Homo sapiens: one gene and its partners. The protein of the gene in region 3 purifies or fractionates together with the protein of the main gene of each other region. This does not show direct contact. Each region holds a gene or a part of one and is shown on either strand. Other genes may lie near its edges.

What was found. Proteins that work in one complex are often made in the same cells at the same time.
Region 1: the proteins of DEFA1 (region 3) and TKFC purify together in Homo sapiens (affinity purification with mass spectrometry, with the first as the bait; 2 studies listed by BioGRID). This does not show direct contact.
Region 2: the proteins of DEFA1 (region 3) and IGSF3 purify together in Homo sapiens (affinity purification with mass spectrometry, with the first as the bait; 2 studies listed by BioGRID). This does not show direct contact.

What each region holds. Positions count from the first base shown.
Region 1 is NC_000011.10:61,329,076-61,336,248, forward strand, and holds the start of TKFC (triokinase/FMN cyclase), read left to right. Parts: upstream 1-4,152; 5' UTR 4,153-4,254; exon of another isoform or gene 4,255-5,544; 5' UTR 5,545-5,653; coding exon 5,654-5,656; intron 5,657-6,764; exon of another isoform or gene 6,765-6,862; intron 6,863-7,128; exon of another isoform or gene 7,129-7,173. Other genes in the region: DDB1 (DNA damage-binding protein 1), read right to left, coding at 288-509, 883-999, 2,468-2,616, 3,833-3,893.
Region 2 is NC_000001.11:116,664,713-116,671,791, forward strand, and holds the start of IGSF3 (immunoglobulin superfamily member 3 isoform 2 precursor), read right to left. Parts: upstream 3,022-7,079; 5' UTR 2,906-3,021; intron 2,757-2,905; exon of another isoform or gene 2,649-2,756; intron 2,245-2,648; 5' UTR 1,615-2,244; coding exon 1,572-1,614; intron 1-1,571.
Region 3 is NC_000008.11:6,977,142-6,984,056, forward strand, and holds DEFA1 (neutrophil defensin 1 preproprotein), read right to left. Parts: upstream 2,952-6,915; 5' UTR 2,872-2,951; intron 2,020-2,871; exon of another isoform or gene 1,985-2,019; coding exon of another isoform or gene 1,976-1,984; intron 1,506-1,975; coding exon of another isoform or gene 1,494-1,505; coding exon 1,319-1,493; exon of another isoform or gene 1,188-1,318; intron 739-1,187; coding exon 629-738; 3' UTR 508-628; downstream 1-507.

The DNA of each region.
Region 1 (7,173 bases), on a different chromosome or scaffold from region 3:
TAAACTGGGTCATCCTATGAAATCTCCCAAGGCCCACAACCAGAGTGTAATCTCAGGATTAAAACCTGCTACAAGCCCCAGAGAGCTTGCTGCCTCCACAATAAGTACTACTGCACTCAAGAAGCAACGAAAGTCTGACCCATATTAATTGTGTTGTTCAAAACATTTCAGGACAAACACATTAAACACTTCTCTCTATCCTACCAAACCCAGACATGCCAGTTAGCAAAAACAACTCCTATCACATCAACCTCACAGTTTCTCGCTCTCTCTTCCTGATCCAGTACCTGGTAGACAAAGCAAATAGTAGGTGCTTGGCAACCATATAGGAACTTGACATCAATGACATGCAGCTCCTCCAGGCGGATGTTGAAGGCCTTGAGTTCTTTATTATCGCGATCTAGTGGAATAACCTTGAAAAGGCCATCATAGAGACGCAGGCCAATCATCCGGCACTCAGGGTCAATGATGCCAATAATGCCGGTCTCTGAGGGGCGGCCAATGCGGTCCTGAGAAACAAAATCGGGATTAGGGAAGAACCTCAACATCCACAGAGCAACAGAGGACGCTGGGCACCACTTGTGCAGAAAAATTTTAGGAGAGGTATTAAAACTAATGGATCTATTTGATAGGCCAAATAGTTGGAGCCCCAATGTCAGTGCATGCCTTTTTCATGAAACACTGAATCTCAATGAATTATTACCCTGTCCCTTGGGTCTTGAGTGAACTACAGGAGTCCTTTCTCCAAAAAGCTCAAACCCATAGTGTCTTCTCCTTATTTCTCTGATCGAATAGAGAGCTGCCCCCAGCACTTTAATTTTTTCCATGAATCATGACAGCCCTACTTAGAAAACTTTCATTGGCCTAAAGCAGCCACCTCACCTGGACATTGCCATGGGCTCGCGTAATGATGTCAATGCTCTCGCCACTCTGTTTATACTCCAGGATGCAGGCATTGTACTTCGCTGTCAAGATAAACAGCAGGTCCTTGCTCTCCCCCTGGAAACCAATATTATGCTATCAAAAGAGGTTCTTTTTAAAACAGGAACAACCTGTCCAGTCTTTAAGCACACCAAATTCTTTAAGAATTTTCCAAATTCTTCTCTCCCTAAAGAGAAAATACATGGTGAGCTTGTAACCCACACTAGGTACACATACACCCTAAGGGCATGTACAAAAAGCCAGAACTGAAGCTGGTAAACATCTAGTTCTCACTTTCATGATTCTCCATCTCTCTGTTCTACAAACAAAGTCTTCATCTATTTCAATCTCAAGCTAATCTCAATCATCCCATTCAAATTCTGAAAGATGAATGTAATGCCTCCTCCACTCCTCCCCAAGTATTTGAAGAAAGAGGAAAAAAAATGTGGGAATAACAACGGAAGCTAAAATGGATCAACAAAGTCCTACTTATTTAACACAGACTCCAAAAAATTGCTGTTTTGTTCAAAGGGTTATAATTAAAATTTTGAACCCACTGCTTTCTTGCCAGATTCAGTTAAGACAACATAAAGCAATGTGGTGGTGATTTGGATGAAAACATTTGCGCTAAAATAATGAAAATACTGATGGTAATTGTTTTTTTTGTTTGGTGTTTTTTTTTTTGGAGATGGAGTCTCGCTCTGTCACCGGGCAATGGGCGCCATCTCCACTCACTGCAACCTCCGCCTCCTGAGTTCAAGCAATTCTTGTGCCTCAGCCTGCCAAGTAGCTGGGATTACAGGCACGTGCCACCACACCCGGCTAACTTTTGTATTTTTAGTAGAGATGGGGTTTCACCATGTTGGCCAGGCTGGTCTCGAACTCCTGACCTCACGTGATCCACCCACCTCGGCCTCCCAAAGTGCTGGGGTTACAGGCGTGAGCCACCATGCCCGGCCTGGTAATTGTTAACATAACTGTAAATGCTTGCTATATGATAGGCCCTATGTTACTGAATCATTTCATCGTCACAACAACCCAGGGGATTTGATCTGAAAGGTGCCTTAAGTGGCACCTAAAGTCAGAATTAACAAGAAATGAAGCCAGGACTGCCCCACTCTGTAGCCTATCCTCTGAAACAAACTGCTTTAATTTCTCCCTTCTAAAGAAGTCAACTTCATAAATGTTTCCCTAATGAATCTCTCCTTTTACTTCTAGAAAGCTTGGTCAAGAGTACATACTGAAATTTGCTATCCAAAGAGAGAAAAAAGAGAAGAGTTTTTCTCCTAAAGCATATTCCACCCATCCCAAGAATTCGCAAAACAACCTAACACAGCCCAAGCACGGTGGCATGCCTACAATACCCCAGCTACTCTACTCCAGAGGCTAAAGTGGAGGGATTGCTTGAGCTCAGGAGTTCAAGACATCCTGGGCAACACTGTGAGACCCCCGTCTCAAAGAAAATAAATAAACAAACAAAAATAACATAAAACAACCTACGACCAACAGTTCCCCCTCCACTGCTTGTCCCAACTGCAACACTTACCTTGGGCCTGAAAAGCTCCATGACCGCAATCTTCCCATACATGCCCACCTCTTTGACGGGCCGAAGCCCCTCGGCGGTGACCACATAGATCTCTAATCTCGTGTTTTTGGCAATCAACAGGTTTAAGTCTTCGGCCGAAGTAAAGTGTCCTGAAAGAACAGACCCTCTAACTTTTGAACTCAGGGGAAGGGCCTCCCATCCCTTCAAAATAATCCTATCACTTATGTCTAAATACCTCCAGAATTCTCATTTACTTCACATACTTCTCCAACTCCCTCCAGCTACTCCCCTTCTTGCCAAATCCGGCACCTCAAAGAGTCTCAGTTCATGCATTCAACAAAGCTACTTCCCTAATCAGACTAAGAAAACTGGACTGGACCTAAGAGCCGTGTGTCCTCCAAATGACAATGACTGCGTAATCCCTTCTCATGCCTCTTGCCCCTCCAATTTTACTCTATTACAGTTACAGTGGCAGGCTCTAATTGAGAATGCCGGAGAAAGTGTTCACTTCTTCCAGTCTTCATCTAAAGTCTCACAAAACTTTTATCTGACAGACCAAGTCAAATGAAGAAGTCCCAGAGCTTTATATGAAAACACTGTTTTGTCCACACCCCCTGCCCTCCTGGCAGTCTACCAATACCTCCATCCACACTCAGCTACCTCCAACTCTGAACAACAGTTTTGTTTTGGAATCATGATTAGGGTGTATATAAACATGCAAGCTTGGGGTCTGCATATTCAGCTGAGAATGTGGGTTAAGATGACTCTTCCCGGGTTCTGAACATCGGTGTCCTTAACAATCCAAGCGCATCGTCAACAAGGCAAACCCAGCACTGGGCCAGGCAAACCAAACCCTCTTCTCCAGCAGGGCCCTCATGTAAACAACAGCCCCAGGCAAAGGGGTTAGCCTGAAGAGGGCTCCTCTCCCTCTGTGGGATAATGCGGGCATTCCTCACATCCCTCCACCTCCTGGGCCCCCCAGACTTCCCCACAGGAAAATCTTGACCCCAAAGTCGTCATTACCACCTCCCCTTTTCCTGGCCACAGAAAGCCAATCTCCGGGCCCAAACGACACCGCACAACCAACTCACACTCCTCTGTCTCACTGGGCCCGCCCTGTTCTCGAGGCCGAATGACCTCCCCAGGACGAAAGGGGACCCTCGAGAGCGGCTTCCAACCCCCAAAAAGCGCGTACAGGGACGACTCTTTCGAGGTCGCGGTGCTGGGGGAGGTTCCTCGGCCGCCAGCGCCTTCCATTCGCCGGGCCCACTCCTGCCCGGCCGCCCCCGGGGCGGCGGGCCTCCCTAGGCCGCGGCTCCCCCCAACTCCCTCACTCGCCGGGGTCTCCGGCCCCGGCAGCCTCACCGGTCACGCAGCCGTTCACGGCGGTGGGCTTCTGGGCCGTTACCACGTAGTTGTACGACATGTCGAGGCTTGGAGCGGCCCGTCGGGACTCGAGCGCGACACTAGAAAGAGGGACACAAGCGAAAAGACAGGTGGCCCCCAACAGCGCGCAGCGAACTCCACTGCCGCTGCCTCCGCCCCAGAGACACGTTGCAGGCCAGAGCGGCCGGGGCGCGGGGCATCACGGGACGGCCTCACCTGGCCTCTTGGAGGACTCCCGAAGCCCGAGGCCGCCAACCGAAGGAGGCCCCGCCCCCGGAGGCACCGCCTCGCCTCTTTCCGCCAGCGCCCGCAGGACCCGGATGAGAGCGCACGCTTCGGGGTCTCCGGGAAGTCGCGGCGCCTTCGGATGTGGCGGATGCGGCCGTGAGCCGGCGGGGGAGGTGCGCCAGTGTCCTCCGAGCTCGCCCGCAGACTCCCCACCCCGTTCCGCGCCCTTTGCCCTTCCCCGCATCCAGTCCTCCTTCCGTTGCTCCAGGAGCCCTCGGGCTGTTCCTCCTTTGGGAACGGGAAGGACTGCGGAGGCATAGAGAGGGAAGGGAGACCGCGATTCGTGCATATCCCAGACTAGAACCTTGCCTGCTTTCCTTTCACTGTCTCAGTTCCTCCAGATCCAGCTGGTGCCCTCGCCTGACGTTTGAACGACCACCTGCTCACCTCCTCCCTTTTGCGCGTTGATTCTTCAGACTTCAAAGGGCCCACCGGTCTGCTTGCCCAACGTTATTAGTGCCCCTATTGCTCTACAAATTCGAACCTCAAACACAAAACCAGTATTTCTCCGTAGGGAACCTTAATGAGCCAGGAGAGCCGTCAGCCCTGCAGCCTCCAGGGTACCCCACATCAAACAGGCTCCCCGGGAACAAGAGGAATACCACGTGGCTTGGCACACTCGCAGAATGCCAGAGAGGAGCCAACCCCCATTTTACAGATGAGGAAGCTGAGGCTTAGGGAGGAATTGGTTTACCTAAGACCCTCCCCACAACCCCAAGTAGGCTGAGGCAGAGCTATGTTGATTCTTCCTATTGTGCACCCACACAGAGGCCAACACGCTGCTGAACCAGGCTGAACTGAGGAAAAGCTAGAAAGTCATCGTGGTTTACATCTTGCCTTTCCCATAGCAGAGACTCTGCCTGACTTTGGAGGCACTGAATTATCAGTAGTAAAAACACACTCTGTAGAAAAACTAGACATTGGTTTAGATTCTGGCTGTTACCTGTATTACCTTGGACAAGTCCCTAGAGCTCTCTGAGTCTGTTTCCCAGAAGTAAAATGGGTCACAAACCTGGCTAGCTCCCCCCATTCCCTTCCCTTTTGGTGCCAAGGCCAGTGAGGGCAAGCGTGTGACGAGCTTTGTTAACTTTTTCGCTGCATGTGATGCCCGTGTAAAAGATAGTTATTCTGAGGATCACTGTCCTTTAGTGATGAAGTGGGTGCTGTTCCTGGACATAAAGGCAGACCTGTGCTTGACATGGATTGATCTGTCTTCTGGCAGTGAAGTGCAGGCATGAACCTTGGTCAGCCCCACACTCTTCTCCATCCGTAGCCCATGTACTAGAGTTTGGACTTGGACCGAAGTCTGGGGCAGCTCCCTAATTACTAGGGTGCTGAAGGCGTGATTGTGCCAGTCGACTGCGAGTTCCTTCCGCAGCTTGTATCGTTACCCACTCCTGCAGGTGCTGCTGCTGCCTCCACTGTACTCAGACCCAGGTAGCACAGGATTGTCCATCCTCCAGCAGCTCAGTGCAACGGTGTGAACTCAGCCTGTTTCAGAGCCTCCACACCATGGTGAGTCATACAGGGCCGGGACGGGAATGGCAGCATGGTCTCAAAGCAGGATCCCAGCCTTGGGCAAGCTAAAGCTCCTTACACTTTGACTGAGAGATGCTATTGCCTCCTGAGGCTCACGGGTGAAGAGAGAGGGTCATCCTCTCTCCCAGGGTCTGATCCCTGCTTTTCTTTGTTTCCTGGAGGCTGCTGGTCCCAGCCAGGCCTGGGGCTGCAGCCTCTTGAGTCCCTTCAGAGCCACTCTGCCCCTTATCTGGGTCTTGCATTCAGAGTAAAACAGTAACAGTTACCTGCTCTGTAATAGACATTGTACCGGTCACAGAAGGAATCGTGAAGAATGACCATGTGACCGTTCCTAACCTTGGGGCTTATGTGGGCCGGTCTGGAGCTGGGATCTACAGTGTGGGAGGCTGGCCATGTCCCTGGGCTTTGCTCCAGGCCCACTGATTTGAACCAAAACAAGCCTTGAACATATCTGGATTCAAATTTCAGCCTGCCACTGACCAGCTGCATGACCTTTTACAGACCTCTCTGCGCCTCTTTTTCTTCATCTGCATTATAAGGCAAATTAAGGCCTACCTCCAGTGGTTGTGTGGTGTTGATCAAGCAGAGTCCTGGAGGCCTCACTTGACTTCCTTTCCTTTTCCATCCTTTCAGGCCACTGAAACCAGGGATAGCACTGGTCCCTAAACCCTCTTCTGGCTCTGTAAAAGACAGATTATCATGATGGGGAGCAGGCCACTTTCTTGGAGGGTAGTGCTGCTGGAGGCTGGGCTTGGAGTGAGGCCAACTCACAACTTCATTGTGTGTTCCAGTCCCTGGTAGGCTCTGAGAGCCACAAACCCATGTCCTTTCTAGGGCAACCTCTGTCACCCTCCACTTCCCTCCAGCCCCTCGAGAAAGCAGCATGATATGGCCAAAAGGGAACCAGCTTTGGAGCCAGGCAGACCTGGACACCTGCTGGCTGTGTGACCTTGGGCAAAATAGTTTAACTGTGCCTCAGTTTCCTCACTGGGCTCATCTTTCCTCCATAGGGCTGTTGGGAAGTTTTGTTTTGTTTTAGTTTGGGTTTTTTTTTTTGAGACGGAGTTTTGCTCTTTTTGCCCAGGCTGGAGTGCAATGGCGCAATCTCGGCTCACCACAACCTCCGCCTCCCAGGTTCAAGCAATTCTCCTGCCTCAGCCTCCCGAGTAGCTGGAATTACAGGCATGTGCCACCACGCCCAGCTAATTTTGTATTTTTAGTAGAAATGGGGTTTCTCCATGTTGATCAGGCTAGTCTCGAACTCCCAACCTCAGGTGATCCACCCGCCTTGGCCTCCCAAAGTTCTGGGATTATAGGCATGAGCTACCACACCCGGCCTGTTGGGAAGATTAAATGAGACATGCTCAAAAACACTTAGAACTGGGCCTGGCTCTTAGTCACTGCTCAGCAAATGGAACCAATCTTATTGTTCTTCTTGCTCCCTACAGACCTAGGCTACTCTGAAGCAGGTGGCTTAGCCCTGGCCCTGGCTG
Region 2 (7,079 bases), on a different chromosome or scaffold from region 3:
TACAGGTGACATGGAGACACTGCCTGTATCCCAGCCCACAGCTGAACAGAAGACTAACTAAACTACCAGCAGGGTGTCTGCATGCGTTGGGTGGTAGGGCACTGGCGCTAGTGAACTCACCCACTGGTTCTCTACTGAACCATGCATGGAATTACCTGAGATAGCTCAAAGGCTGAGACCTGGGTCCCACTCCCTAAGCGAGTTTGGTTTCACTGATCTGGGGTTGTTGCCTGAAATCAGAATTTTTAAAAGCTTCCCCAGTGATTCCAACATGCACACGAGAGTTTGAGAACCACTGATTGCACAAATCTATTATGAGTTTCAGACATTATTTAAGGCAGTCAAGGCATTTAGGACACCTTATATCCTTTAGTTATCACACCTTCCCTTGTTTTATTGTTTCTGTTTTATTGACATTCAGATGTCAATCATGGTGAAGCTGGGATAGGAACTCAGGTCCTCTAATTCTAAAGTCCATTCTCTTCCCACACACCTGTTACCTACTGCAAGGGTGTAGACAATGCATGGAAGCAATCTCCACTGCCAACAGATCACCCTAAGTTCCCTACGTGCAAGACACCTAGATTTGGAGACGTGAACCCTGTAGGCAACAATCATAATCCCTTCTGAATGCAGAGGACCGAGCCTTACAGAGAGGGCAGGGGGTGTGCTCATGTATGAGGTCTGAGATGGGGAAAGAGAATGGCACCAAATCCTGGCAATGAAGTTTATCCTAGACCTGAGATGTGTTCTAAGACAGCACGCTGAAGACAGTGCTCAATGGCATAAAAAGAATAGGCAATTGTTGAGCAGAGGGGCCTCTTCACTGGGGTGAAGGTCCTGCATCTGCACCTTAAGAGGGGTGTCAAAGGTTCACCTCTCAGGGCCATAGTTTCTTCTTCCCACTCTAGGCATTCTGATTTGTGGGAGCACAAAAGCCAATCCTAAAATCTCCCCTACCAGGCAGCTTCCTTTTCTTCAGGCTCTCCTTCTCCCAGAACTACGATCTAAGCTTCCTTGGTGAGGAGACACAGGACTAGTGCCCTCACATTTTTAGCCTTCAGACCACTCAGGTAGGCAAAGCATCCCTTCAACCCCCATCCCACTTACTCCCATTTCCACCTCAAAAAAGGCACCATCATTATCACCCAAACCAACTTTCGAGACAGAGGGGAATGATGTTCCCACTCCCAATTAGGAATCAATGCAGCCCAACAAAGAAGTGAAAACACCAGAGCATCCATGTTTGACATGCTACAAGACAGCAGCCCACCAGCCATGTGAAGTCCCTAAACCACAGATGTGCAGATGCAGGACCTCACCCCAGGGGCCAAGACAGACACTTTAAGAACAGCAAATGTTCCTTCTTATAGATAACAAATGATATTCCACCGTTGCTCTTGGGTTAGAAACGGGCCTCTTCGTACTCTACTCCAACCTGTGACACACACCGACCGCCTCCTGGTGTCCCCCAAATCCTAGTGTTGATGAAAAAGAACCACGAGAAATTACAGGAACCAAGAGCAGGTTAAACTTTCACATCGATTGCACTGATAAGCAGAGCCACTTACCCAGCACAGCCAGACAGCTCAGCACCGGGAAAAAGCACTTCATGTCGGCAGCCTCCAGGAGACACAACACAAGGCGCTTCCTCTTCTCCCAGCTCCTAATCTCTCATTTCTGGCAATCCACTTATAGCTCCAGAGAACAGTTTTGGAAATAGAACTTAACTCGGAAAATGGGAACAGATTAAAAAGAAGAGATCAGAAGGAGGGAGTTGGGGGGAAGGGGAGGAGTGGAGGCAAGTGTGAAAACTCCCCTATGCTACAGGAAGGGTCCACAACAATTCGGAAGTCGCTCCCGGCTCCTGCCACATCGTGTGCCTTGCAGTTTCCACTGAAATTGCAGACTGTAGTGGATTAATCCTCCAGAAGCACGGAAAAAAGGGTCTGAGAAAATCCTTTCATCCACTGATTATACAGAAATGTCCTTGGCTTCTCAGTGAAGGTGTCTGTGATCTCCCTCATTCGGATTCCCCAGAGAGAACAGGGCAGGTTTCGTCAAAACCTTTGACGGCCAAATCACCCTGCCTGGCATCAACCGTTTGGGTTTCTTCACCAAAAAGTCCGTTTCCATCCATGGTGGTAGGTCACGGAGGCGCCACCTGCCCCACGCCTGCCTAGGGCACACGAAGCAAGTTGGCGTTCGGCAGCCCTGAAGCGGTACCCCAGCGCGAGCAGATTTCTAAAACAAACACAACAGAGATTTTTATCAAAGGCAAAGCTGCAAAACCCACTGGGGCTGAGCGCTGAGCTGGTCCGGACACCTGGGTCCGGTTCCTGGACCAGGACAGTCAACCTCTGCATTCTGACCTTGGGCAAGTCTCTGTCTTTCCCTCCGCCTCAGTTTCCCTGCCCAGAGCAGGGCAACAGTGGGAAGCCCGATTGTTCCTGAAATACTTCCACCAAATGCTTCACTCCTGGGAATTCCCGTCACCTCCTACCGAGCCCGGGCGCCGCAGGTAGCCCCACCCTCCGCCAGGGCAAATCGGGAAGGGGCTCCGCGGTGGGGCCGCGACTCCCGGCCCCCGCCCCAACCGTGGGAGCTCTGCGCGCGACGCGTCCCAGGTGGCCCCGCTATTGTTTTACCTTGCAGGGTGTTTATATCTCGCTGATTGGAAAGAAAAGAAACCGGGGAAGAAGGGAGTCCGGAGCTCCGCTTTCAGCTGCCGGAGCGCGCTCGCAGCGCGCCCGCCCAGCCAGGGGAGGGGTCTCGGGCCCGACCCGGAGCTCAGCCGGCGCGGGCCCGCTCCCCACTCCCCGCTCCCCGCTCCCCGCTCCACGCCTCCCCGCCTCCCTCCCCGGGGCCCCCTCCGGGCGCCGCCCGCGCCCCCGCCGAGCCTGACCTCGCCCCTGGCCCTCTCCCTCCGCGCGCGTCGGACCGTCCTTCAGTCCATCCAGGCGCACGCCTCAGGGGACGCGCCGCTTCCTCTTCTCCCGCAACGGCACCAGCAGCCGCGCTGCGGCCCCTCCCGAGTCCCCGCCCCTCCAGCTCCAGCCCGGCCCGCCGCACTCGGCGAGGCGAGCGCGGGGCCAGGGCGGCGGCCTCGAAGAGAGGCCCGGCCCCGCCCCCGGCCCCGCCCCTGGAGACGCGAGTCCCGGCCCCGGGCCTGGCGGGGGCATGAGGGTGGCCCGGGGCACCGGAGGACCTGGGCAGGGCTGGCGTGTGGGCCGAGCAGCCCGGCAAGTTAATCAGGGCTTCACACCCAGACTCCGGGGCCGCCGGCGAGATGTACAGGCCCTTCCCAAAGCCCAGCTGGCCACCCATAACCTGGGAAGCCGGCGGCACAGAAGCTCGTCCTTCCTCCTGGAAACAAAAACAAAGCCCTTTGGAGACTTGAATCTGTTCACGAAGTGGAACCCCATATTGCACTTCACTCTTGGATAGAATTTGGACTCTGGAAACAGCCTGGGTTCTAACGCCGGTTCCTCCACTTCCTCGCTGTGGCCCTTGGCAAGTTACTTAACCTCTCTGTGCCTCAATTTCCCCATCTGCTATGTGGAGGAAATAACCCTTACTTAAGAGGGTTATGGGAGAAATCTGTGACATACTTGTAAAGCATTTAGAATGGTGCCTGATACATCACAAGTGGTCAGTAAATATAAGCTATTATTATTTTATGACCAACCGCCCTGTAAAGCAAGTGCTTTTTCGTTTTCTCACTACTTACCCAACACACACAACTTGCTGGGTAGACACCGTCACGAGGCGACCAAAGCAGAATAGACCGCCCTGCCCTCATGCAACTTGCAGTCTAGTGGGGACACAGACCATAAAATAGACATGACAAGAAAAGTACAGTGTTGAGGAAGCAAATGCAGAGACCCCAACCCTGTGTTATTGGGGGAGGGGCAAGGAGGAGGGAGCTTTGGTCGGGGTAGGTCCCAGGCTTCTCAGAGGAAAGGAAAACTCGGTTGAATGCCAAAGAACAGAAGGCAGCAGCAGAGGAAGAGACAGAGGGGAGGTAAGGAATCGCAGACTGAAGAAACAGCACCTCTGCAGGCCCAGAAAGGAGCCCAGTTAGAGGACCAGGACAGTCTGCTGGGCCCAAACTTGACTGTAGGAGAGAAGTGACAAGAAATGAGCTGAGAAGAAATCGAGTGCCAGAACCTAGAGGGCATTGTATGGTGTGTTAAGGGGTTGGGACCATTGGGAAGCCACTGAAGGTGTTGAGTAAGGGACTATGGTTATCAGATATACGTTTTATTTTTCATTTTATTTTAAGAGACAGGTTCTCACTCTGTGACCCAGGCTGGAATGCAGTGGTGTAATCTTGTCTCACTGCAACCTCCACCTCCCGGGTTCAAGTGATTCTCCTGCCTCAGCCTCCTGAGTCACTGGGACTACAGGCGTGCACCACCACACCCGGATAATTTTTGTACTTTTAGTAGAGACAGTGTTTCACCATGTTGGGCAGCCTGGTGTTGAACTCCTGACCTGGTGATCTGCCCGCCTCAGCCTCCCAAAGTGCAGAGATTACAGGCATGAGCTACTGTGCCCAACCAGGAATCTTTCCTTGTGTGTTAATTATTACCTCTTTCCCAGAGACACCCGTGACTCTGGCAGCTCTCAGTTCCCATTTGCTAGACTCCTTCATTTATTTATTGAGCACCTACTACGTGTTAAGAAAAGTCTCTGCTCTCATGAAGCTTACATTCTGGTGGGAAACACAGACAATGAAACAAGTATATAATATAATGTAACGTGTTCTGAAGAAAAGTGGAGTATAGAAATGTGTGGGCGGGCACAGTGGCTCATGCCTATAATCCCAGCACCTTGGGAGGCCAAGGCAGGGGGATCACTTGATGTCAGGAGTTCGAGACCAGCCTGGCCAACATGGCGAAACCCTGTCTCTACAAAAAATACAAAAATTAGCCAGCCGTGGTGGTGCACACTTGTGGTCCCAGCTACTTGGGAGGCTGAGGCATGAGAATCGCTTGAACCTGGGAGGCAGAGGTTGCAACGAGCTGAGATCACACCACTGCAGTCCAGCCTGGGCAACAGAGCGAGAGTATCTCCAAAACAAACAAACAAACAAATAAAAAACAGAAAGGAAAAGAAATAGTGTGTATGTTTGGGGGTTCCAGTGGGAAGAAGGACTCTTTGCTAGGTGAGGTGGTCAGAAAAGACCCCTCAGAGGAAGTGACATTTGAGCGAGACCTGATTACAGGGAGTGTGTGAGCGCTGGAGATTTCTGGAGTAAGAAGATTCCAAGTGCAGGGAACAGCAAGTGCAAAGCCCCATAACATGTTCAGAAAATTAAAGGTGTGTTAGTGTGTCTGAAATGGCATAAAACAGAAGGAGAAGGAGGAATGTGATCAGAGAGGTCAAAGAGGCCAAATCTAGTAGGACCTTCTAACCTGAGGAGCTTGGCTCACTCTGGCTGCTGGGTAAGAATAGAGCATCAGATGGTAGGGGTGGACAAGGGACACTGGATGGGAGGTTCTTTCCATTGCGCAGGTGAGAGATGATCACAGCTTAAACTAGGGTGGTGCTGATGCAGGTTGTGGAAATGGGTGGAGTCTGAAAGCATTTAGAAAGCAGAGTCAATGAAATTCTCTGAAGAACTGAATATGGAGGGGGAGAGAAAGAGAAGAGTCAAGGAATCTTCCAGAAGGGGCATCTCAGCCTGCTTTGGAACTCTCTGACCCCCACCAAGGTGTACCCCCATCAAGGTGCAAGACTGTACTTTCTGAGGCCTCTGCCTAGGCCTTCATCCTTGAACCCCTATACTCAATTATCCCTTCTCTATTACTCGTTCTTTCAATCTCAACCTGCCCCTCTTCATACTACTTGGCCCCTTGCATCCTTCTGGATGATCTTTCAACCCTTGACTTCCATCACCACCCAGATGTGTTATGGCTGATTCCCAGCATGGCATTCTTTCTAATTTCCACATCTACGATATGCAAAGAACTGTGCAAAGTGTTGGATGGGGAGACAAAAGTATAATTTAAAAGAATGCCTCTGCCCTCCAGACATAGAAACGATTAAATGAGTCCTGAACAGTGATGTGATGGTGGCCCCTTCAGGAGTTCATCAGCAGGCAGAGAAGTGAATTGGAGGCTGGGTACAGTGGCTCACCCCTATAATCCCAGCACTTTGGGTAGCTGAGGTGGGCAGATCACCTGAGATTGGGAGTTCAAGACCAGCCTGACCAACATAGAGAAACCCTGTCTGTACTAAAAATACAAAAAATTAGCCGGCCATGGTGGTGCATGCCTGTAATCCCAGCTACTCAGGAGGCTGAGGCAGGAGAGTCTCTTGAACCCGGGAGGAAGAGGTTGCAGTGAGCCAAGATCGTGCCATTGCACTCCAGCCTGGGCAACAAGCTCCAGCCTGGGCAACAAGAGCGAAACTCTGTCAGAAAGAAAGACAGAGAGAAAGAAAGGAAGGAAGGAAGGGAGGGAGGGAGAGAAGGAAGGAAGGAAGGAAGGAAGGAAGGAAGGAAGGAAGGAAGGAAGGAAGGAAGGAGAAAGAAAGAAAAGAAAGAAAGAGAGAGAGAAAGAAAGAAAGAAAGAGAGAGAGAGAGAGAGAAAGAGAGAGTCCTAAGGGAAGGAGAGATGTCAAAGGAGAGGAGTGCACCGAAGTCCCCAGTCAGCAATGTCTGGTGCCCGGGCTGAACATTCCAGCTTGCTTCAAAACATTCTGCATTTGAATTTTGAAACCTCTACTGCACCGGCCTGGAATCAGTTGTTTATTTTGGACATTTTGGAAGACTCCTTGATCTTGTCCATCAGGGAGTTAAATGCAGAAGCCTGCAGAAGCCGAGCTGAAGCACAGTGCCAGGGAGTACTGGGGCCTGTGCACCCAGAGCACAGCCTGAAAGAGCACGCACAGCTTCAGCAAAGTGTTGCTGCTGGGAAGGAAGGTGTGGTGTTGCCTGATTTTCCTACTTTTTAAGAGAATCAGGAAATCCACATTAAAAAAAAATTATTCTTAATTTTGCTCATTGGAAACTAGTGTTTCAAAAATAAATTAATCCCTCTCTTTCTAGTTCTTCCTAGAGTGAGGAAAAG
Region 3 (6,915 bases):
AATGAGGACGTGCCAATGTGAGATGCTGTGCTTTCTGTTCCATGTATCCCGCCTTTGCTAACAACCCATTTCCCTCTGAATGAAAGTTTTTTCCGTGGATCTCATGTAACCCTATGTCTTAAAAGGAAAATGTACAATCTGACATTGTTCAATGAAACTCCAATTCTTTAGCACAGAGGATGGTTTTTTTTTCCCGGAGAAGTAATGATTTTGTGACTGCATGAAATGTAAGCTGACACCGATTGTTTGCCCAGCACACGCGAGCTCTTTGAGAGTGGATCCAGAGAAAATGAGGCAGGGTGAAAAGGCAGAGCAGTGGGTGGGGAAATCAGTGGTGTCATATGGGCCTTCTTTTCAATTTGGATCTGAAGCCCAAACTCCTGCTTGAAATTCCTAGAATTTGGAATTTTATATTGTTCAAAAATTTGATTTTGCGTTTTGGTACGTGTATCCCAAGTGTCTTGACACAGACACATATCACACATTAAAGAGGTGGAAACACAGAAATCTTGTAACAAGGCATTTATTTGGGATGAGGAAAGGAAATTGAGCAGAAGGTACAGGAGTAATAGCAATTCCCTGTAGCTCTCAAAGCAAATTTTGAGCTCATTTTTCTTTTTCTGCAAGCTCAGCAGCAGAATGCCCAGAGTCTTCCCTGGTAGATGCAGGTTCCATAGCGACGTTCTCCTGCAATGCACGCTGGTATTCTGCAATAGCAGGCCATGTTTTTCCTTGAGCCTGGGACAGGGAGAGCATGAGAAATTGAGTATGGAGTTAGCAGTGGGTAAGAAAAAGAATCTCGGGGAAGTCACATGCTAGCTGACAGGTGATGCTGGCTGCATTGCAGCCGTTAGCACGAACAACCTCAGTCGATAGGAATAAACACGCAGAGCAGTGCTTGTCACTCAGAATTTGAGACTCATTCTCCTTTGCTCTCATTTTTGCATTCCTGCCCCATCACACACACACCTGAACATATCCTCAGGCTTGGCTGCAGTTTTTAAAAGCTCTTCTGTAGATAGAGTAAAATGTTCTCTTTACAACTAAGTCTACTTGTTTAGATCCAGAAATAACTAGTCTGTCTCTTCATATCTGAAACTTAGTGAATTTCACAGACGTTTCTTGGAATCAAGTCTTTGGAGAAATAAAGTTTCTCATGTTTATTTGGCTCTCTGTTCAATTTCTAGATGAGAAAATCAATGCCCAGAGATTCTAAGTGAAGCCACCTCAGTGACATAGACTGCTGAGACCCAACTCTGGAACCTCTCTCCCGTCCTTCCCTCTAGACTTAGCAGCTCTGCATGCCTGCCTCTCTCACCTGGATGCTTTGGAGCCAAGCTTTCGTCCCATGCAAGGGAAACAACCACTTCTGGGATGTCCGCTGCAATCTGCTCCGGGGCTGCAGCAACCTCATCAGCTCTTGCCTGGAGTGGCTCAGCCTGGGCCTGCAGGGCCACCAGGAGAATGGCAGCAAGGATGGCGAGGGTCCTCATGGCTGGGGTCACCTGGAGGAGGGAGAGCAGGAGCAGCTGTGTGGGGAGGGAGGAGCCAGCCTGGATTTATAGCTCTACTGGGAGAAGGCTCGGAGACAAGAAACCTTCCTCAATCTCAGTGAGAGGAGGTGTGCATTTTATAAGAGAGGCCCATTGGTCTCAAGGTTGCTCGAATGCTCCTGTTCTCCCAGTTTCATGCTAGTATACATCTGTACCTTTAATGTCTGTGCTAGGTTGGAGCTAATAATGACAAGAAAGACCCTGCTATGTTACTCGTGGGTTCACCTGCTTAAATATTATGATTCACTTTTTAACATTCCAAAAAGAATAGAAATTGCACTTTGATTCAACAGGCTCAGGGAACAAATGCTTCTTATTTTCTGAAGATGGGTCCTGCTGTTCTCTGGAGGTCTAGATTCTGGTGTCCTATATGAGTTCCAATGGAATAGCGAGTAATTCACTTCAGGATTCAGGTGACTTACCATCCTCATGAAGAGGTTTTTGAGGTTATGGGGTGAGTAGTCTCCTGTAGGAATCAGGGTGGAGAGGACAATGATTTTATCAGGCTAAAGGTGAAATCAGCTCAGTGACACAGAGTGGTTTAAGTAAAAAAAAGAAAGTTTATTATTTCCACCTCTACTTAGACTTGAGTAACAATTAACAATTGTATATTTATAGTGTACACTACCTCATGATTTTATATATGTATGTATTTAAATCTTTATCTCACACCATGTAGAAACATCAACTCAGAATGAATTGAAAACCTAAATGTAACAACTGAAACCATAAACTACTAGAAGTGTATAGAAGGATAAAGCTTTTGACATTGATGTAGGTAATGATTTCTTGGCTATGACACCAAAGGCACAGGCAATAAAAGGGAAAATAGACAAGTGTGGCTTCATTTAACGCTAAAGCATCTGCACAGCAAAGGAAACAATCAACCGAGTGAAAAGATAACCCAGAAAATGAGAGAAAATATTTGCAAAACCTACATGGCCGAAGGGGCAAATATCTGAATACATAAGGAATTCCAACAACTCAATAGCAAAAATCAAACAACCTGATTGAAAAACAGACCAAGGACCTAAATAGGTTTCTCTCAAAAGAATGTTCCAAAGACCTGTGATAGTCTCTACTGGACATGTCAACCAGGACATGTGACATGTGTGTTTAGAAGGAAACTGCTTGAGTTTCTCTATTAAGTTAGCTGGAAGCCATCGTCCCCAGCAGTCACCAGAGGTCCGGACAGACGTTCCTAGCAGGGATTCGCCCGCTGGTTCCCTCTGGGGTGGCCCCACAGTCAGAGGTCAGATTGGAGGCATAGCTTCAATAATGAAAACTCAGTGTAAAGTTTAAGTTTTGTAGTACTTACAGATCCTCTAGCTAGGCAGGGTGACCAGAGAGGGCAGACAGCAGTCCTCTGTCCCAGGTCTTCTATAGCAAGGAGCAGCCGTGCACAAGTGGACTTCCCCTATTTAAAGGTCTTTTGGGATGAGGTGTCCTAATTTCCGGGGTTACTTTCTGTTGGGTCCATTAAATAATTGTGGTGGCAAGGACAGTTGAGAAATTTGGTGGGAAGGTGAGGTTAAAGTAGAACTCCACAGAGGAACCTCTCATCTACCTTGGTCAGCCCTGGCCAGGCCCAGGCAGCAACCAACTATGGATTCTCAATGGCTCCTAACACAGTTGACCCTGTGATGCATTGGCTGTGGCTAAGCTGAACTACCTGCACCAAGGGAATATTTAAGGCCTCTGGGACAGCCTGGCTGCGTATCACAGTATACGCCCTGCAAAGAGATTGGGATAGGAATGCCACCTGCACACAGAGGAGGATTTGGAATGTGTTTCTAAAGCAGTGTCCCGAGGACCTGGGGTCTAACCATAAAAACTAATGAAAGCCATTTGGCTGAGCTGGGATGTTGGAGAACACCCAGGTGAGACTGAGTGCTACCTGGGCTTCTGTTGCTATGTGGAACAGACATTTTTGGGTTCTCCTGAGTACTGGATGTACACGCGGCATGTGGTTCCCCAGAGGTGACTATCACCTGTTTGCTTGGCCAATGAACAGTTTAAGCTTAAACAATTGTCTAGGATCATCTGGGCCAAGAACTGGTCTGAGGCATTAGCCATCAGGGTGGGAGTGGCCTTTCCAGATGGCCACCCAAGAAAGGAGGTGGGAGTCTGGGCATTCACTTTACTGCTGGTGTTGCACAGCCTCTCAGGCCTTGTGGGCCTTCAGAGAAGCATTCAGCAAAAGCTTGAGTGGTGCTTTCTGGGAGGCATAGGAGTTTCCATCCTTCACTGGTACACATCGGAGAACAGGTGTATCCCTGAGCCCATGATCATGTCTGGATGCTTTCTGTGAATGCAATGCTCCAACTCTTCAGGCTGCAGTCTGGGTGTGTGCTGCGGCGTCATGAGCCCATTTGGATTGAAGCCTGTGCATCCAGAGAACTACCTCCTCATCCTTAAAACACGATCTGTGGTTGTGAGGGCTGCTGGTGTTTAAGCATTGGTGCCATGGGACCCATTCAATATCTAAGGGTTGAGTTGCCCGCCTTGGACACAGGTCAGGTTGTATCTGGGGTGCAGCCCCTGTAACAGGGCTTACAGGGAATTCCCCAGTTTTCCAGTCTGGGGTACAAATTCTGACTAGGGCTGTCCTGTTCCAGCAGCCCTCTAGGCTGCCAGGCCTGGGTTAAACAGCTACCCCACAAGCCATTTGTACATAAGATACCAAGCAAGGCCAATCATAGAGAACACTGACATCTTGTCACTCAGGGCTTTCTTCCCAGTGCTTCTATATTGACACTGATGATGGGGTTGGCTGGCACCCACTTTTCCTTGGAGCCTTTCTCCCCCATGGCCACGTTTGGTGATGGCACTTCCATATGGTCTTTGCCTGACGTAGTTGGTGTCTCTAGTTTGAAGGCTTCTTCTCCTCGTTACTGCCTCTGACTGCACCCTCGGTGGGTTCTGGAGCAATAATCCCTACTTCCTGCCAGGAGAAGTAAGTGGGAAATATTAGCTAACCTTTAAAACCGGTAAAAAAGGGAGCTTTTGCCAGAAGCTGCATGTGAAATGGAGAGGTGTGGTCTAACAAAAGCCTCGTGGTCCTGCTGGGTGCCAGTGGGCCTGGGGGGTTATCCTCAGAAGATCGTAGTTTACTATCCATCCACAGTCCATTGTTCAGTATATGTTTGATGTTGAGATGGTGGATGTCCTGTGATGATATGGGGAGGTCTCATTATTGGAGAACATGTAAATGATGTTATCTGTAAGGGAAAAAAGAAGCTAACTCTTCTGTGATCACCAAGATAGGCACCAAAGTGCGTCTAGCCCAATTGTGATGAGGCAGTGGTGGCCATGGGATTGAGAGTTAAAAAAGTGACGGCCCTTGGAAGGACCTTGGTGCCTTGGGTGTCCATAGCACATCCAGAGACATTAATAACCATGACTTTAGGAGGCCACCGTGCTGCTTGAGGAGGCTGGTGGCTTGGGGACGATGGACTAAATGAGACTCCCTTAACCCACCCTCATGTTGTGATGTCCTGAGGTGGGAGCCTCCATCTGAATCAATGATAGGTGTGGTTCTAAAGGAGATAGTGAAGAAATGCCACGTAAAGAGAACACCTGCTCCACGCAGGGCATAAGGAGCTACGGTCCCTGGAAGACTACATGTGCAGAAGCTCATAGTTAGGACAGGTGTGCTTTGTCCAGAGGCTCTGAGACTTATGATGGGTGGTAGTGAGGGCCTCCCCATGAAACTCAGAACCCGGGACCCGGGCATGGACTAGAGAGATCACCTGCTGGACCAGCAACAGACTGTATCCTGCTGTGGCCCCAGTGGATGTGAAGGGCTTCTGGGTGATGGCATTTGTGGGCCTCAGCAGAATGGACAAGTGGGGTATAGCTGTCTCCAAAGACACGATGTCCCAGTACATGGAGGGCCAGCTGCAAAGTGGCTAGGACACTAGTGGTGAGGATTTGGTTTTTAACTGCAAGGGGACTTTGTCAGCCCACTGATGACAAATTGATGCCCAGAATCTTTACAACAGTGCTGGAGGGGCCATGAGTGTGTCCTCCAGAAACGTGGCCACTGTCCAGGAAGAGGGAGAGCGGGTGCAGCAGCTCTGCCACAGACATATGTCCTGGCCCAGGCGGTGGCTTTACATGCAGCACCCAGAGCGATTTGGGGAGCTGAGGGAGAACAGAGACCCTCCAGCTGGCTCAGAGTCACTGGTGGCTCCTGTCCCTGGAGGGGTGGCCTTCTCTGCCCCAACCCAGTCTTGTGCTCTCCTTCCCTGCCATTCTTGGCTGCAGGACTGGGAACCATCTGCTGGGACGTTGCTCTGTGTCTCCCTCATGGCCATGCTCCCATCCTTGCCTCCTCCATAGACTGCGGTCAGGACTCAGCAGCCCAGAGCCCCAGCAGGGTCTCAGTCTGTACTGAGGTCACACCTAGGCATTGTCGCCATCCTTCGGCAGGTGATTCTCAAACTCCAAACTCAAATTAGAACAGAGAGATTCTTCCCTGTGGTCCTTTTCACTTTTCTCTTTTGGCTGCACCAGAACCTTGGCAGAATTTTGTGGTTTAAACAAAAAAGGTGTTATGCCTACAGATTTTTTACAGTACTTTCACTTCCATGTTGATCCATAGTCCCCAACCCCAGCCTGATGTTTTCCACTGATTGCAGCCAGTGTAGACAATCAGTGTCCACACTGTGGACACTATATGTAGATGCAGCTGAAGCTGTTTTTTTCAGACACACGCATTTGAATTTTAGGGAATATTGAAGCGAGTCTAGACTCAATAAAAACCTTGACATCATTAGGCTGGGGTAAACATTCTGGAGAAGCTGTGGGTGGGGTTGTAGGTGTGAGAGGAGAGAAGCTTCCAGGAGCAGCACACATATTCTCACACATGTTTATGGTGTCTGGTGGCCTCAGCAGACACAGTGTGTGTGGACCTTGGGCGGGGCCCTGGGGTTATGGTTTTGACCCGGTAGGAAAGGGTAGTCATGGAACACAGCATGCGTGTTACCATGGGGCGCAGCGGGGGCTACGCAGAGGTGAGCTCTGAGGAGGACCCTCCACCTCCCAGCTCCTCAGAGTGCATCGCGCTGTCCCTCCCCTCAGCCCTTTGTCCACTGTCCTGCAGGGAGGGTCCTGGTGCTGCCTGTGCCACACAGTCACTCCCGGGCCTGCAGATCCAGCTGGGACAGGTAGGAGCTCCAAGTCCCTGCCCTTTGTCTGCCTTTCCCAGCCGCCTCTCACAAGCTGTCTGTGTGTCTGGTGTTGAGGATTGCAGCAGGTTTATTTTACAATAAACCATAAGGAAATAGCTTCCTTGAGCTGTTTTAAAATATGGCCCTAAATCCCTGACTCTTTTCACATAAAAATGGAGGTGAAAATG